Linked DNA regions of Homo sapiens. The protein of the gene in region 1 purifies or fractionates together with the protein of each later gene. This does not show direct contact. Each region holds a gene or a part of one and is shown on either strand. Other genes may lie near its edges.

What was found.
Region 2: the proteins of UCP2 (region 1) and FLG purify together in Homo sapiens (affinity purification with mass spectrometry; 3 studies listed by BioGRID and IntAct, with this or other methods). This does not show direct contact.

The regions. Positions count from the first base shown.
Region 1 is NC_000011.10:73,980,023-73,984,158, reverse strand, and holds the start of UCP2 (dicarboxylate carrier SLC25A8), read left to right. Parts: upstream 1-1,315; 5' UTR 1,316-1,438; intron 1,439-2,526; 5' UTR 2,527-2,683; intron 2,684-3,229; exon of another isoform or gene 3,230-3,487; intron 3,488-4,106; exon of another isoform or gene 4,107-4,136. UniProt on the Homo sapiens protein: Antiporter that exports dicarboxylate intermediates of the Krebs cycle in exchange for phosphate plus a proton across the inner membrane of mitochondria, a process driven by mitochondrial motive force with an overall impact on glycolysis, glutaminolysis and glutathione-dependent redox balance.
Region 2 is NC_000001.11:152,308,094-152,311,760, forward strand, and holds part of FLG (filaggrin), read right to left. Parts: coding exon 1-3,667.

The sequences.
Region 1 (4,136 bases):
TTTTCTTTTTTTTTTTCTTTTCTTTCTTTCTCTTTCTTTCTTGTCTTTCTGTCTTTCCTCTCTCTCTCTCTGTCTTTCTTTCCTCTCTTTCTTTCTTTTTTCCTACATGGCAAGATCTCCTCATGGCAGAAATAATCTGCCTTGACTTCTGTTTCCACGCTGCTTCTGCCAGGACCATGCGCTCGGCGTGTTTTTCTTTCCGCTATAATTATCCAGGCCCATCCCAGCTCTGGTCCCCTCAGCTGTTCCCTGGCAGTCCCTTCTGCTGGTGAAAACACATATGGCGCCGGCCTGACCAGGGTGTAAGTGTGTGAATATCAGGAAGATGACTGAACGTCTTTGGGACTCCGTTTCCTCATTGTAAAATGGAGGTTAATACCAGCCTTCTTCTACTCCCCAAACGCACGTGTTTGTCCCGGCCAGAGGGCCCAATTGTTGGCTGTTCACGCGTCAGTTACCCCCACAGGACGGGTCAGCCAATTAAAGGCGAACCAGGCCCGGTCCATCTCCTGACGCCTTTTCTCATCCCAGGGCTGGACAGGCAGCTGGCCTGGGCCCGGCTCTGCCTTGTCACGTGCGGGGGCCGGCCCGTTTGCTTGTCTGTGTGTAGGAGCGTGAGGTCACGCTGGGTGCTCCCGCCCCGCCGGGGCCTTTAGTGTCCTGGTCCCTAAACGCCAGGCCGCTCCACCGGGGGAGAAGGCGCGAACCCCAGCCGAGCCCAACGGCTGTTGTCGGTTGCCGGGCCACCTGTTGCTGCAGTTCTGATTGGTTCCTTCCCCCGACAACGCGGCGGCTGTAACCAATCGACAGCGAGGCCGGTCGCGAGGCCCCAGTCCCGCCCTGCAGGAGCCAGCCGCGCGCTCGCTCGCAGGAGGGTGGGTAGTTTGCCCAGCGTAGGGGGGCTGGGCCCATAAAAGAGGAAGTGCACTTAAGACACGGCCCCGCTGGACGCTGTTAGAAACCGTCCTGGCTGGGAAGGCAAGAGGTGTGTGACTGGACAAGACTTGTTTCTGGCGGTCAGTCTTGCCATCCTCACAGAGGTTGGCGGCCCGAGAGAGTGTGAGGCAGAGGCGGGGAGTGGCAAGGGAGTGACCATCTCGGGGAACGAAGGAGTAAACGCGGTGATGGGACGCACGGAAACGGGAGTGGAGAAAGTCATGGAGAGAACCCTAGGCGGGGCGGTCCCCGCGGAAAGGCGGCTGCTCCAGGGTCTCCGCACCCAAGTAGGAGCTGGCAGGCCCGGCCCCGCCCCGCAGGCCCCACCCCGGGCCCCGCCCCCGAGGCTTAAGCCGCGCCGCCGCCTGCGCGGAGCCCCACTGCGAAGCCCAGCTGCGCGCGCCTTGGGATTGACTGTCCACGCTCGCCCGGCTCGTCCGACGCGCCCTCCGCCAGCCGACAGACACAGCCGCACGCACTGCCGTGTTCTCCCTGCGGCTCGGTGAGCCTGGCCCCAGCCCTGCGCCCTTTGCGCCCCCCACGCTTGTTCTGCGTGCGCTGCCCGCTCTTCCATTTACCTTCTCTCCCACCCAAGTTTGTACTCTTTTCTTTCTCTCGGTTTTATTTTTTGTTTTTGTTTGTTTGTTTGAGACAGGCTTTCGCTCTGTCTCCCAGGCTGGAGTGCAGTGGCGCGATCTCGGCTCACTGCAGCCTCCACCTCCCAGGTTCAAGCGATCCGCCTGCCGAGTAGCTGGGATTACAGGCGCCCGCCACCACGCCTGGCTAATTTTTGTGTTTTGTAGAGATGGGGTTTCGCCATGTTGGCCAGGCTGGCCTCGAACTGCTGAGCTCAAGCAATCCGCCCGCCTCGGCCTCACAAAGTCCTAGAATTTTAGGCATGAGCCTCCGGGTCCGGCCTGTGCTAATCCTTTCTGTCCTTGGTTCTTTATTTCTCTTCTCTCTTTTTCTTAGTCCCTTTTGTTCTTTCCCTCTCCCGTTCAGTTGGCTGTCGTTTGAGCCTCCACCTTTTCACTCCCTCCTTTCCACCACGATGCCGAGCCCTGCCTTGGATGGGGACCATCAGCGATGACCACAATGACCTCTCCCTTACCAGGCAGCTCCAGGCAGTGTTCCTGCACCGCCTTTCCCAGGGCTTGGGGGCTTTTTCTAGTGGGCTTTGAGCTGCTCAATCTGGCCTCTGCAGGGCCGGCTCCCAGCCCTTCCAACCTCCTCACAGCCCGACCTGGGACCTAGCCAATTCCCGGAGAGTCTCTGTCCCATCGTGACCCCCTCACAACTCTCCCACTCACCAAAGTCTGATGACTGTGCTAGGGGGTGCTTATATAGAGTACTGAGTGTTACAAAAGCAGAAGTCTGGATGAGAACCAATTTGTGATATTAAGCAGGTGGGGTGGGGGTGGGGAGTGTACCTAGGTTCATTTTCCGCCCTGCTTTTCCCCTTTCCAGTGTGTGCACTTAACCAGTCCCTGGGCCCTGTTCCCCATCCCCCTCCAAGGCATGGATTGGGTGGGCTTGTGTGTCTTGGGGCAGGTGGCCCTTTCTAAACTCTCTGCCTTTGCTCACCCACAGGACACATAGTATGACCATTAGGTGTTTCGTCTCCCACCCATTTTCTATGGAAAACCAAGGGGATCGGGCCATGATAGCCACTGGCAGCTTTGAAGAACGGGACACCTTTAGAGAAGCTTGATCTTGGAGGCCTCACCGTGAGACCTTACAAAGCCGGGTAAGAGTCCAGTCCAAGGAAGAGGTCTCTTGCTGCCTCCTAACCCTGTGGTCTAGGGGCAGGAGTCAGCAGGGCATTAACAAAAATAATTACCATCCCCACCCCCGACAGTGAAGTGGCTCTTTCCAGTTCACAGAGCACTCTCACACCTCCCCGCTCTCATTCTGGCCCTTCAGCTGACTCGGACAAGCCAAGGATCTTGGTCCCCATTTTATAAAGGAGAAAACTGAGGCCCACGTGTAACAGTGATTGGCCCCAAGTCATCCCGGGAGCCAGCAGAAGAGCTAGGACAGGAACCTATTGTTCTAACTTCATATTGATGCTAGCTTTTGACTATCCCTGAAACCGAGATTGGTAATCAGCCCGGCTCTGAAACTGGTTATTTGCTGGGGACTGTAAAATAGGATTAACTATTTCTAGTCCTGCATTTTAATTGCTGTTAGTAGGGCCATCTTACCCACCCTCTGAAGGACCTGACTTGGCAAGCCCAAGGCAACATTCAGAATATGGCAGCTGAACCTCTGTGCACTTGTCTTTGGGCAGCAGCTGGGTCTTATTCTTCTCTGGCCTTCACAACATCCTGCAACCCAGCTCAAGGTCAGGAATGTGACAGACTCATGTCATCATATCTCTGATGCCCAGAGAAGGGATACCATTTGCCTGAGCCTTCTCAGTACTGTTTAATCAGCCTGTGAGAACTTTCCTTGTGAAAGGCCCTGTCTGTGCCTGGGGCTGATAAAACAGCAAGAACGAACTGAGGAGCTGGGCAGCAGTGCAAAGCAAATACTACCAGCTTTGGTGCCTGTAAGTGTGGCTCTTACTCATCTCACATGGAAATAAGGGCAGCCACCTTGCAGGGCTGCTCTGAGGATTGAGCTAATACAGTGCCCTGGGCGTTGGGGTGGGGAAAGTTGTGGAGCACCTCCTGGGGGAAGGGGGTGTCAGAGCAGGGAATCTGGGGAGTCCGAGGGCACCTTCATCAACCCAATCTGTCATTTGAGCACCAGTCTTCACTGAGCCTCGTGGGCAAGCTGGAGGGAAACAGGAATAAGGTCAGGCCCTGTTCTATAGGTCCCAGTGTAGTTGCTATGGTGAGTATCTTCATTTCCCTGCTTGCCCCAGCCACCTGGAGTGAGAAGCCCAAGAGGAAGCTGGGTGAGCTGTTTGTTTCCATGGGTCTCTGTGTTCACAGCTGACTCCCTTCACCAGCCAGCCCTTTCACCTGAGCCCCAGCAACAAAGGCAGTCAGGCGGGGCTCAAAGCAGCTGCTCCAATGAAGTCAAAGAAATAAGCTCAGGGGAAGAAGCAGGTCACCCTCCCCCACTAGGGTGCTGGGCTCACTTCCTCCTGGGGCAGTGGAGGAGGGTGTGGTTCCAACTCAGAACAAAATGGGGCTTTTGGTTTACTTTATCACTCTTCACAGCTCTGACCTGGACCCCTCATCCCTGCCTGT
Region 2 (3,667 bases), on another chromosome or scaffold:
GGACGCAGACCCAGACCGCCTCTCAGAATCTTCTGAGTGTCCCTCACTGTCACTGTCCTGGCTAACACTGGATCCCCGGGGCCTGCTTGTCCTGGGCCCTGATGATTGTCCCTGGCCCACCAGTGAGTGTCTAGAGCTGTCGGCCCAAGAGGAAGCTTCATGATGATGCGACCCTGAGTGCCTAGAGCCATCTCCTGATTGTTCCTTGTCATATGTTTTTCTGCTTGCACTTCTGGATCCTGACTGCCCACGGGAGGCATCAGACCTTCCCTGGGATGTGGTGTGGCTGTGATGAGACCCTGAGTGTCCAGACCTATCTACCGATTGCTCTTGGTGGGACCCCTGTCTTCCTCCTCTGCTTGGCCCCGGGTGTCCACGAATGGTGTCCTGACCCTCTTGGGATGCTGAGTGCCTGGAGCTGTCTTGTGCCTGATCATAATGGGATCCTTGTCTTCCTCCAGTGCTGGGCGCAGACTGTCCATGGGTGGACTCAGACTGTTCATGAGTGCTCACCTGGTAGAGGAAAGACCCTGAACGTCCAGAGCTTTCCCCTGACTGGCCACGTGCGGACTCTTTGTGGCTCTGCTGATGGGGCCCAGCTTTTCCCTGTGCTGACACTGACTGTGTGTCTGAGTCTTCTGAATGTCCCTCACTGTCACTGGCCTGACTACCACTGTACCCTCGGTGTCCACTGTCTCTGACTGCAGATGAAGCTTGTCCATGCCCAATGCCTGAGTGTCTGGAGCTGTCTGCTGACTGGAGCTGGTGGTGGGATCCATGTCTTTCTCCTGCACTTGATCTTGCCTGTTCATGGGATGACGCAGCCTGTCCACGAGAGGAAGACTCTGTGTGACGAGTGCCTGATTGTCTGGAGCTGTCTGCAGAGTGCCCGTGACCGGCTCTGTCTTCGTGATGGGACCCAGGGTGTCTGGAGCCATCTCTTGACTGCTCCCAAGCAGATCCAAGATGGTTTCTGGAAGCAGACCCAGACCACCTCTCAGAGTCTTCTGAGTGTCCCTGACTGTCACTGTCCTGGCTAACACTGGATCCCTGGTTCCTGCTTGTCCTGGGCCCTGATGATTGTCCCTGGCCCACCTGCGAGTGTCTAGAGCTGTCGGCCCGAGAGGAAGCTTCATGGTGACGCGACCCTGAGTGCCTGGAGCCGTCTCCTGATTGTTTCTCATTACGTGTTTGTCTGCTGACACTTCTGGATCCTGACTGCCCACGGGAGACATCAGACCTTTCCTGGGACGTGGTGTGGCTGTGATGAGACCCTGAGTGTCCAGAACTATCTACCGATTGCTCATAGTGGGATCCCTGCCTTCCTCCTCTGCTTGACCCTGGGTGTCCACGAATGGTGTCCTGACCCTCTTGGGACGCTGAGTGCCTGGAGCTGTCTCGTGCCTGCTCGTGGCGGGATCTTTGTCTTCCTCCAGTGCTGGGCCCTGTGCGTCCATGGGCGGACTCAGACTGTTCATGAGTGCTCACCTGGTAGAGGAAAGACCCTGAACGTCCAGACCTTTCCCCTGACTGGCCACGTGTGGACTCTTGGTGGCTCTGCTGATGGGGCCCAGCCTGTCCGTGGGCTGACACTGACTGTGTGTCTGACTCTTCTGAGTGTCCCTCGCTGTCACTGGCCTGGCTACCACTGGACCCTCGGTTTCCACTGTCTCCGACTACAGATGAATCTTGTCTGCGCCCAGTGCCTGAGTCTGTGGAGCTGTCTGCTGACTGCTGGTGGCGGGATCCATGTCTTTCTCCTGGACTTGACCTTGCCTGTTCCTGGGATGATGCAGCCTGTCCACCAGAGGAAGTCTCTGCATGACGAGTGCCTGATTGTCTGGAGCTCTCTGCAGAGTGCCCATGACTGGCTCTATCTTCTTGATGGGACCTGGGGTTCCTGGAGCCATGTCTTGACTGCTCCCGAGCAGATCCATAATGGTTTCTGGAAGCCGACTCAGACCGCCTCTCAGAGTCTTCTGAGTGTCCCTCACTGTCCCTGTCCTGACTAACACTGGATCCCTGGCGCCTGCTTGTCTTGGACCCCGCTGATTCTCCCTGGCCCACCTGTGAGTGTCTAGAGCTGCCGGCCCGAGTGGAAGGTTCATGGTGACGTGACCCTGAGTGCCTGGAGCCGTCTCCTGATTGTTCCTCATTTCTTGTTTGCCTGCTTGCACTTCTGGGTCCTGACTGCCCATGGGAGGCATCAGACCTTCCCTGGGGTGTGGTGTGGCTGTGATGGTACCCTGAGTGTCCAGACCTATCTACTGATTGCTCGTGGTAGGATCCCTGCCTTCCTCCTCTGCTTGACCCCGGGTGTCCACGAATGGTGTCCTGACCGTCTTGGGATGCTGAGTGCCTAGAGCTGTTTCGTGCCTGCTCATGGCGGGATCCTTGTCTTCCTCCAGTGCTGGGTGCAGTCTGTCCGTGTGTGGACTCAGACTGTTCATGAGAGCTCACCTGGTAGAGGAAAGACCTTGAACGTCCAGAGCTTTCCCCTGACTGGCCACGTGCGGACTCTTTGTGGCTCTGCTGATGGGGCCCAGCTTGTCCGTGGGCTGACACTGACTGTGTGTCTGAGTCTTCTGAATGTCCCTCACTGTTAGTGACCTGACTACCACTGGACCCTCGGTGTCCACTGTCTCTGACTGCAGATGAAGCTTGTCTGTGCCCAATGCCTGAGTGTCTGGAGCTGTCTGCTGACTGCTGGTGGCGGGATCCATGTCTTTCTCCTGGACTTGATCTTGCCTGTTCATGGGATGACACAGCCTGTCCATGAGAGGAAGACTCTGTGTGATGAGTGCCTGATTGTCTGGAGCTGTCTGCAGAGTGCCCGTGACTGGCTCTGTCTTCTTGATGGAACCCAGGGTGTCTGGAGCCATCTCTTGACTGCTCCCGAGAAGATCCATGATGGTTTCTGGAAGCAGACCCAGACAACCTCTCGGAGTCGTCTGAGTGTCTCTCACTGTCACTGTCCTGGCTAACACTGGATCCCTGGTGCCTGCTTGTCCTGGACCCCGATGATTGTTCCTGTCCCACCTGTGAGTGTCTAGAGCTGTCAGCCCAAGAGGCAGCTTCATGGTGACGTGACCCTGAGTGCCTGGAGCCGTCTCCTGATTGTTTGTCCTTACGAGTTTGTCTGCTTGCACTTCTGGATCCTGACTGCCCATGGGAGGCATCAGACCTTCCCTGGGATGTGGTGTGGCTGTGATGGGACCCTGAGTGTCCAGATCTATCTACCGATTGCTCATGGTGGGATCCCTGCCTTCCTCCTCTCCTTGACCCCGGGTGTGCACGAATGGTGTCCTGACCCTCTTGGGACGCTGAGTGCCTGGAGCTGTCTCGTGCCTGCTCGTGGTGGGATCCTTGTCTTCGTCCAGTGCTGGTCCTGGTCCGCCCATGGGCAGACTCAGACTGTTCATGAGTGCTCACCTGGTAGATGAAAGACCCTGAACGTCCAGACCTTCCCCCTGACCAGTCACGTGCGGACTCTTGGTGGCTCTGCTGATGGGGCCCATCCTGTCCATGGCCTGACACTGACTGTGTGTCTGACTCCTCTGAATGTCCCTCACTATCACTGGCCTGACTACCACTGGACCCCCAGTGTCCACTGTCTCTGACTGCAGATGAAGCTTGTCTGCGCGGAATGCCTGAGTGTCTGGAGCTG